Regions from separate parts of the Homo sapiens genome. Here region 2 is linked to region 1. Evidence: fine-mapped expression QTL. A gene starts in region 1. The other region holds a variant in brackets. All regions are shown on one strand. Distances are from middle to middle.

What was found. PIP is the estimated chance that this variant, and not a neighbour inherited with it, causes the effect. A credible set is the group of variants that fine-mapping cannot tell apart.
Region 2: its variant is the best candidate, but not a certain one, in a credible set for the expression of ATP6V1A in macrophages (Nedelec 2016, PIP 0.64).

The regions. Positions count from the first base shown.
Region 1 is chr3:113,745,172-113,749,564 of GRCh38, reverse strand. ATP6V1A (ATPase H+ transporting V1 subunit A) reads right to left here and starts at 2,530. Exons shown (of 15, transcript NM_001690.4): 1 at 2,452-2,530. It overlaps NAA50 (N-alpha-acetyltransferase 50, NatE catalytic subunit), which reads left to right and starts at 3,316. Exons shown (of 5, transcript NM_025146.4): 1 at 3,316-3,623. The coding sequence starts at 3,616. RefSeq lists enhancers at 2,573-2,942, 2,264-2,999, 3,000-3,735, 3,983-4,132, 3,736-4,393 and a silencer at 3,293-3,412.
Region 2 is chr3:113,643,353-113,647,745 of GRCh38, reverse strand. No RefSeq gene overlaps it. Among named protein-coding and RNA genes, the nearest start is that of MIR4446, 51 kb to the right of the region's middle. The variant AAC/C (reference allele first, on the strand shown) is at 2,439.

The sequences.
Region 1 (4,393 bases):
TCTATAGGACTGAGTGGCTACCTCTGCCCATGGGGAAGAAAGCATTCTTAGTGGTGGCAAAAATCTATAAAGGCACTGAAAACAAGAACTCAGGAAAAGAAAACCAGAAGTGCCAAGGGCCCTAAAATAAAACCAAACCCTTATGCTTTATTTAATAGTGGACTATAGCACAATTCCCTAATAAATGTTAAGATTTCTACATGTAACACTCATAAACTGATAAGGCTAGTCTCAGAAATGTTTTCCAGGCTTCCAATCGTGTGTGTGTGTGTGTGTGTGTGTGTGTGTGTGTGTGTGTGTGATCTGTGTATAATGTCAAAGCTTTTTTTCACATTTAACCTTACTAGCAATGTAATCACCAATTCCCACTACTAATCTACATTTCATCAGTGGTCTAAGTTATTGCTTTCACGAGTTCCCTAAAACTGGGGGAATTGTGAAGTAAAACTGCAGACTCATCCAACCACTTTCATACTGACATTTTCCCCTCTAGTAGTCAATGCTTCTAGCTGGTTTTCTCTTTCACATTTTGGTCTCAGCCAGACAGGACTAGTTAGGACTTCCAGACCACATAAGGAATTCTCCTTACGTGGTGCAATGTCACCTGGTCACTGAAGTAACACTTCCTTTTTTTCTTCCCCTCTCCTCTAGAGATCAAGGAACCTTATTATGGAGAAAATTAATGGATAAAACTACATATATATATCTACAGCAGGCATGATGACATAAATATATCAATACATTAGTCTATTGTCCAGTATGGGTCGTAAGTACGAAATGCTAAAATGGTAAATCCACAAGAGATAGTAGTAATCTTCATTACTTGGGGAAAGCAACATCTCCGAGGTTATGTTTTCTACTAAGGAGCATCAATAAGCTAGGTTATGTATTTTGCACTTACTATAAAAATACTTTGTTAAACTGCTGCTATTGTAGAATTTTAACTTTTTATTCTCCTTAACAAAATAAGACCGTTTATTGTATAGAATTTGGAAGACACAGAAAAACAAAAATAAATCAGTCACATCCACCAAAGATGATTCCATCTTCCTCATTTTCCAGCAGTCTTCTTTAATTACCTTAGTTAGAAAACTACAAGATTTAACTGAGCATATAATTTTTCATATTAAGAAAGGTGTAATTTAAATTTTAAAAATCAAATTTGTAATATTCGTAAGACCTTCAATTGAAAAGCAGCATGGAATTTTCTGAGTTTGCAGTATAAATAAAAGAGTTTAACCACAAACTGAAAAACATTCTTCCCTAAAGCACATTGTTTGGGATCAAAACATTGGTAATAATACATTATGGACGGAATGGGAGTACTTGGGTTGGACAACACCTGTATTTTCAATTGGACAACAATTTCTGTATTTTCACAAAATACTATTCATCAAAATCTGAAGAGGGCACCGGGAGTTTTACAAATGGGGAAAGCTAAAGAGGGATACAAATGCTACTTAACCTAAATTTACCACAAAGCCGATCAAGGAATAGATTGGGAGTGCCAATTCAGTAGTATTTTAGGGGAAAATGACAAAAAGGGAAGGATTGACGGCAGAAAACATGTGCAGACAGCAACATCTCGACTTGATTCTACCTTTAAGCATATGGCCAAATCAATTTGGTTTAACTATTTCCAACCCAATCAGTTTCTTATTTCGGTTTCAGGGAACCCTACTCACTCTTCCCTAAACCAGCCTGGGCCTCCTGCACACCACAACACCACAATACCATCTTTCAACGCCTCCTCATTCAATCGAGACTGTCGCATTACTAACACCTCCTGTTTTGAAGACAGTATTCCTTCAACTGTCCTCTCTGCAGAGAAGAAAAAGTAAAAGCCCTTCTTTTACTTTTCTAGTCCCATCCGAAGCACGTGAACATCTACGGAACCTTCCCTGCAGGTATGTCAGATAAAATCCTTAGAATCACTGAGAAAGCACATTCGGAGGGAAGCTTCACAGTGACTCTGCAGTGAGGGCCGTATCAGTGACAGTCCCTCCCAAGCCTGTCTCACCGGAGACGCCTCTGCCTCCAGGGTTTTTGCTACCTCCCCGCTCCTCAGCCCTGAGCTGAGGGTAAGGACAGTGAGGACCTTTGCCAAAGAATGGGCTTTAAGGAATGGGACCTAATGTCTACTGCAGACCCTGTGAAATGGCTGAAACAATCTGCTACCCGAAGCCCCAAAGGCTCTGAGTAGGGAACCATAATGGCCGCACTCACTTCCAACCCTGGGAAAGGTGGACATCTGAATCCCCAAGTAGCGGGAACGACCACACTTGGGGGAGCGGGGGTTAAGGAGAAATGAGCTCCTTGCCGGTGCAGGGTGACAGCGGGGAGGAAGCCTCAGGCAGAAAAGTCGCCGTTCACACTCTCCCTTCTCTCCTTCCTCTGCCTCCTTCCACCCCCTCTATCCCCACCACTCGCCAGTTACCGGTCGCCGCTCACCTGCTGGGGCGCGAGGTGCAGAGACTGTACCGACCGAGGACCCAGAGGCTGTCACCACGGAGGGGAAGTCCTCAGCTGCACAGGTTGGGGGGGGGGGGGGGGGCGGGCCCAACCAGTCACATGACGTCGAGCTCCGCCCTGCCTCCTCCATCCCAGCGCTCTACATCTCGGGGGGCCTGAATTTTTACGGATCCCTTGAATATTAATTTTCTTGGATTAAAGAAATAAAAGATAAATTTTCACAAAGAGTATGTTATAAAGTACAATGTGGAAAATGTGGACAGCAAGAGTTAAAGCGCATTGCTAAGGAAGTGACGTTCACGCCACAATCGAGGGACAGGAAATGGCGGTGGCGTTCCGTCCCTCTGGAGTCCGCCGGTAAAATTCCAGGCTCTGAGGTTTGGGCCAATCACGTGATCTTAAAACTTGAGGCGTGCTGGAGGGTAGCCAATCTATCTGGCCGATTGTTAACTACGTTTGTTTTAAAACACCTAACTTAAACTTGAGCTTTCCACAGATTTCTTTACATTTAGAAGAACTAACTTTATAAAACCCTACTAGGAGGCAACAGCGTTTGAAGGTCACTCTGGAGACCACAAACTGGGAAGAACGGGGCTGAGAAAAACTATCTTGCGGATATGGGACAAGAGAGGGAGGGGTGGAAAAATCTGGATTTTACCGCCAGGGCCTACCGAGCCAGCCCCACAAGCAGTGTCGTAAGCGGGTGGGAGGGAGGAGCATGACCCCAGAAGGCCCAGTCCAGGAGAAAGATGGAGGTTCCGGAGTGGAGGGGGCAGGGTGCGCGGAGGCGAGCAGTGCGGCTGCGCGTGAGGCGGCGGCGCGCCGGCGCGCGAGGGGCGGGGTGAAAGGTCACAGCGCGGCAGCGGGTCTGGCTGGCGGCAGCGGCGGGAGGGAGCCGAGAGACCCGAGTGCACGTGTGGAGAAGCGGCGGCACAAGCGCGGCGGCGGGAGACACTCCCGCCCCCACCAGACTCAAGCCCTCACTCGACTCTCGCGGCCTTCGTTGCTCGCACAGCTCCCTGCCCAGGCTAGGAGGCCGGCTTGCGGGGTTGAGTGGCCCGAGCTAAGGGTGCGGAGACCTAAGGGCGGCGACTACGACGGCGTTGATATCGGTGGTAACGACGGCCTCAGCAGGCGGGGAAGATGAAAGGGTGAGGAAGGGCAGCCGGGCAGGGCCCGGCCGGTGGGGTAGAAGGGTCCGGGCCCATGTAGAGGGGGAGAGCCGCAAAGGCGAGGAGAGATTCAGGGCGAAGACGGGCGGAGGGAGATTTCTCTGCTTCTCAGTTCCCTCGGCTCCCGGAGGGGGCGGAGGCGAGGCTCGGGCTGTTGGCGGGCTGAAGGGCCAGCGGAGGCAAGACCCGGGGGGCTTCAGGGTTTCGGTTCGGAGACGAGTGTGGGTTGTTGAGTGGGGAGAAGCGACCGAGTGGGGCAACATGGAAAGGCTATTGTGAAGCGCCCGGGGCCTCCTTCCCGGGAGCGGACCGCTGAGCCACGCCGGCCCGCAGCTCCAGGTGGAGTGGTTTGGTTGTCTTCCACCTCCAGACTCAACTCTGGAACTGCGGTGTTTGACACCTTTCAGTTTAATTCACGCTTGGGAGCTGTGCAGAACCTTCTGGAGGAAGAAGAAATTGGAATAAAGAGCACGGGGATGAGTATTAAGAGCTAGTGACTCAACTAGATTTGGGTTGGGTCACAGCGAGTGGAGGAGGGGGAGAGAGCGCGATCACTGTAGACTTGGGGTGCCAACATATTTAAGGAAGTATAGGGTGGATCAGTAGGTGGAGCTGTTGCTTCAGTAGTTCACTATTGCCCCTGAGTGCTGAGGCGGTCCTGGGTAGTTCTACCACGCTGCTCCTTTCAGGTGATTGGCAAAGTTAATGTTCGGTCTTTCACCGTTTGCCTCTTACGTAAAATTAGGAAT
Region 2 (4,393 bases), 100 kb after region 1:
GATGTTGATCTCATTTATGCCTGAAGTCTTTGTTCTATGAATGTCTAAAATATATCCTAATGTTTTAAAAGGTAAAATGGCCAGGCACGGTAGCTCACACCTGTAATCCCAGCACTTCGGGAGGCTAAGGCGGGTGGGTCACTTGAGGTCAGGGGTTCGAGATCAGCCTGTCCAACATGGTGAAACCCCATCTCTACTAAAAATACAAAAATTATTGTATTTTTACAATACAATTGGGTGTGGTGGCATATGCCTGTAATCCCAGCTACTGGGGAGACTGAGGCAGGAGAATTGCTTGAACTTGGGAGGCAGAAGTTGCAGTGAGCCAAGATTGTACCACTGCACTCCAGCCTGGGCGACAGAGCAAGACTCTGTCTCAAAACAAATAAATAAAAATAAAAGGTAAAATGAGGACCTTAGACACCACTTATTCTCACATATACTCCAGGAAATTAAAGCTCACAATATTTTCCTTGACCCGTCTTCTTGGGACTTCAGATTAAAAGTCGGTATTCTGACTGTGAAGGGCTAACTTCCTACTATTGCATACCACCTCCCATTCAGATGTTATAGATGGAAGATACATTTTGATTATACAAGAAGCCCTAATATGCCATGAAAGACATATAAATCATAAAGATGCAAACACTATGCTTAAATTTAATCTCCCTAAAAGTTATAGTGTAGTTTTTGGAATTAACAGCAATTACAAATATAAGAGAACTATCTGAACAAAATTCCAGAGAAATTCCATTTCTAGGTAAGCTGAGATCTCTGGTCTTTTTTCCCCTGGGGATGTTGGATGAGTCTGGGCTGAAAAGGCAGAGTGAAAGCACCCATAGTTTCATGAAGCTTAGGAGACAACGTCCTGCTAGAGGGAGCAGGTGTCATTCTCAAGACATTTAAAACCAGAGGCAAACTGAATCTAACTAAAGCTACATCCCAGCTCTCATACAGCTCAATACTCTCTGCCTAACAAAGGAAACATGAACCCTCTCTGGTGGAAAATACCATCCACCTTAATTTCTAACGTTCTTTTATATACAATCCCCAGAAAATACATACAATGTCTAGGAAATGTGGCCAAAAAGCAGAAAGAAAAGCGGATTGTATAAGTAGACCCACAGACAATCAAGATGCACAGACAAGGGCTTTAAAATAACTATAAAAATATGTTAAAATGGAAAAATTTTAAAATACGTTAAAAATAGAGAATTATAATTTATAAAAAACGAAATGGAACAGAAAACAGTAGTTGCTGGGGGAAGGTGGAAGGGTTGACTACAAAGAGGAACAAATTTTGGGGGGAGATGTTTTATATCTTGTGTGGTTAAAAGTCACAGAATTGTACTCTGTCAGATGGATTTTGGATGTAAGTTATACTTCAATAAACCTGACAAATAATGGAAAAAAAGAATAGAATGAACATCTAGAGCTGGAAAAGTGAAATTAGGAAATTCTTTTTTTTTTTTTTTTTTTTGAGATGGAGTCTCGCTCTGTCACCCTGGCTGGAGTGCAGTGGTGCAATCTTGGCTCACTGCAAGCTCTGCCTCTGGGGTTCATGCCATTCTCCTGCCTCAGCCTTCCGAGTAGCTGGGACTACAGGCACCCGCCACCACGCCTGGCTAATTTTTTTTGTATTTTTAGTAGAGACAGGGTTTCACCATGTTAGCCAGGATGGTCTCGATCTCCTGACCTCGTAATCCACCTGCCTCAGCCTCCCAAAGTGCTGGGGTTACAGACATGAGCCACCACACCCAGCCAGGAAATTCTTAAATAAATTTGTAGTAAAGTACACATATCAGTCAATAGGAAATCAAACCAAAGCACAGAGAAAAAAAAAGGAATAGAAAAGAGTGATCAAAATGCAAGATATGTGTGGGGCACTGTCAAAATATCCAACTTATGTATCACTAGAGCTTCAAACAGAGAGGAGAGAGAATTGGACAGAAGTAATATTTGATGGGTGAAAATGTTCAAAACTGATAAATATATTAACTATAGATTCTAGATGTTTGGTGAACCCACAAGTAGGATAAATGTAAAGAAAGTTACACCTATACATCATAAGCAGACATCTGAACTCTAAAGATAAAGGACTTTGGGAGGTCAAGGCAGGCAGATCACTTGAGGTCAGGAGTTCGAGACCAGCCTGGCCAACATGGTGAAACCCTGTCTCTACTAAAAATACAGAAATTAGCCAGGCATGGTCGTGGGCACCTGTAATCCCAGCTACTTGGCCCAGCTTGGGTGACAGAGTATGATTCCATGTCCAAAAAAGAAAAAAAAAAAAAGAAAATTTGAAAGCACCTGGGTGATAAAGATACATTGCCTACAAAGAAGCAACAATAGGACTGCTGACTTTATAACAAAAATGATGGAAGCCAGGAGACAGTGGAATGGCATCTTAAAAGTAAAGGACAAAAAAAAAAAAAAAA[AAC/C]CTACTGACATGGAATTCTATAAATTATTAAAATTCCCTAAAAACTAAAAGAGAAACACATATTCATACAAACAAAAATTGAGCAATATTTTGTTTTACCAGTAGACCAGCACTACAAGAAATTTTAAAGGAAGTTATTTGGTTTGCTGGAAAATGATCCCAGATGAAAGAAGTGAAGAGGGCTTGAAAGGGTAAATTATTGGCAAATATAAAAGAATATTGAGATTTAAAACAATAACAATGTCTTGTAAGGCTTATGCAAATGCAGAAGTAAAATATATTACAATAATAAGACAAAGTGAGAGGATAAATGAAGTAAAACTGGTGTGGATATTTTATTGCTGAGAAGTTGTAGAAAATGATAATTAAAGGTAGATGGTAATAAATCAAGGTTCTGTATTATAATTTCAAAAGAATAATAAAGTAGGGCAAAACTGAAATGCTAATAGATAAGATAAAATAGAGAAGGTAAAAGGGAATAACAAAATACTGGATTATTCAATGTATTTAATCAAATAATTAAATATTTAAGGACACACTTTTAAATAAGTCAGAAAAAATGAATTAAAAGAACAAATAGAAAAATAACAGAAAAATGATGGACTTACAACCATCTAGATCAGTATATTATAGATTGAAATAGCCATTTAAAATTTTAAAAGTAGACTGAATTACAAAAATTAGAATCAACTATATGTTGTTTACAAAATGCACAAAAAACCCACCTTAATTATAAGGAAACAGATTAAAAGTAAAAGGATGGAAAAAGATATGTAAGATATGTAAATTCTAATAAAAAGAAAGCTAATATGGCTATAGTAAAATCAGATTATTATGGCCTGACTTTGCTGCTGGGTCTGCTGTTCCCACCCCTTTAAAGCTGTTGGATGTCAAACATGCTACATAAGAACCAGAGGCCACAAGTAATTCAAACGTTTATTCCTCATTCAGGACTACACAAACTTATGAAGTGTGAAGAGTCCCTGGGTGAGGTAGCCCACCACCTGAAAGAAGTCTCTCTAATGTTTGGGTAGAGTGTGGGGGAGATAAGAGGGAAGAGAGAGAGATAGAGAGAGAGAAAGAGAGAGAGAGAGAGAGAGAGAGAGACCTGTGTGATGTAGCTAAAGCATTAATCTGAGGGAAATGTATAGCTTTAAATGCCTACGTAAAAAAAGAGAATTTGAAAAAATCAGTGATTTCAGTTTCCATCTCCAGAAGCTGGAAAAATAGTAACTTAAGTCCAATGTAAGTCAAAGGAAAAGTATAATAGAGCAGAAATCAATAAAATACAAAGCAGATAGCTGACAGAGAAAATCAACAGACAAAAAGTTAATACTTAGAAAAGGCTAAAAAAGAAAAAAGAGGTCAAACGCGATGGCTCACGTCTATAATTCTAGCATGGCAAAACCCTGTCTCTACAAAAAATACAAAAATTAGTTCGGTGTGGCGGTGCACTCCTGTAGTTGCAGCTACCCAGGAGGTTGAGGTGGGAGAATCATTTGACCCTGAGCGGTGGAGATTGCAGTGAGCTGAGATTGCGCAACTGCACTCCAGCCTGGGTGACAGAATGGTACCCTGTCTCAAAAAAAGAAAAAAAAAGACCAGGAAAAAAGAAGATAAATATGAATGATCAATATCATGAATGTAAAAGAGGACATCACAAAACATTATACAGAAATTAAAAACATAAAATATTATTTACAACTTTATGCCAATAATATTGACAACTTAGAGGAAATTGACAAAATTATTGAAAAATGCAACTTATCAAAATAGATACAAGAAGAATAGAAAATCTTTATAGTCTTATACCTACTGATGAAATGGAATCTATTATTTAAAATCTTCCTACTACATATTGTAGGATTCCATTTCTATGAAAGTCTAGAATAGGCAAATCTATAGAGACAGAAAGCAGATTAGTAGGTATCTAGATACCTGGGGGCTTTGGAG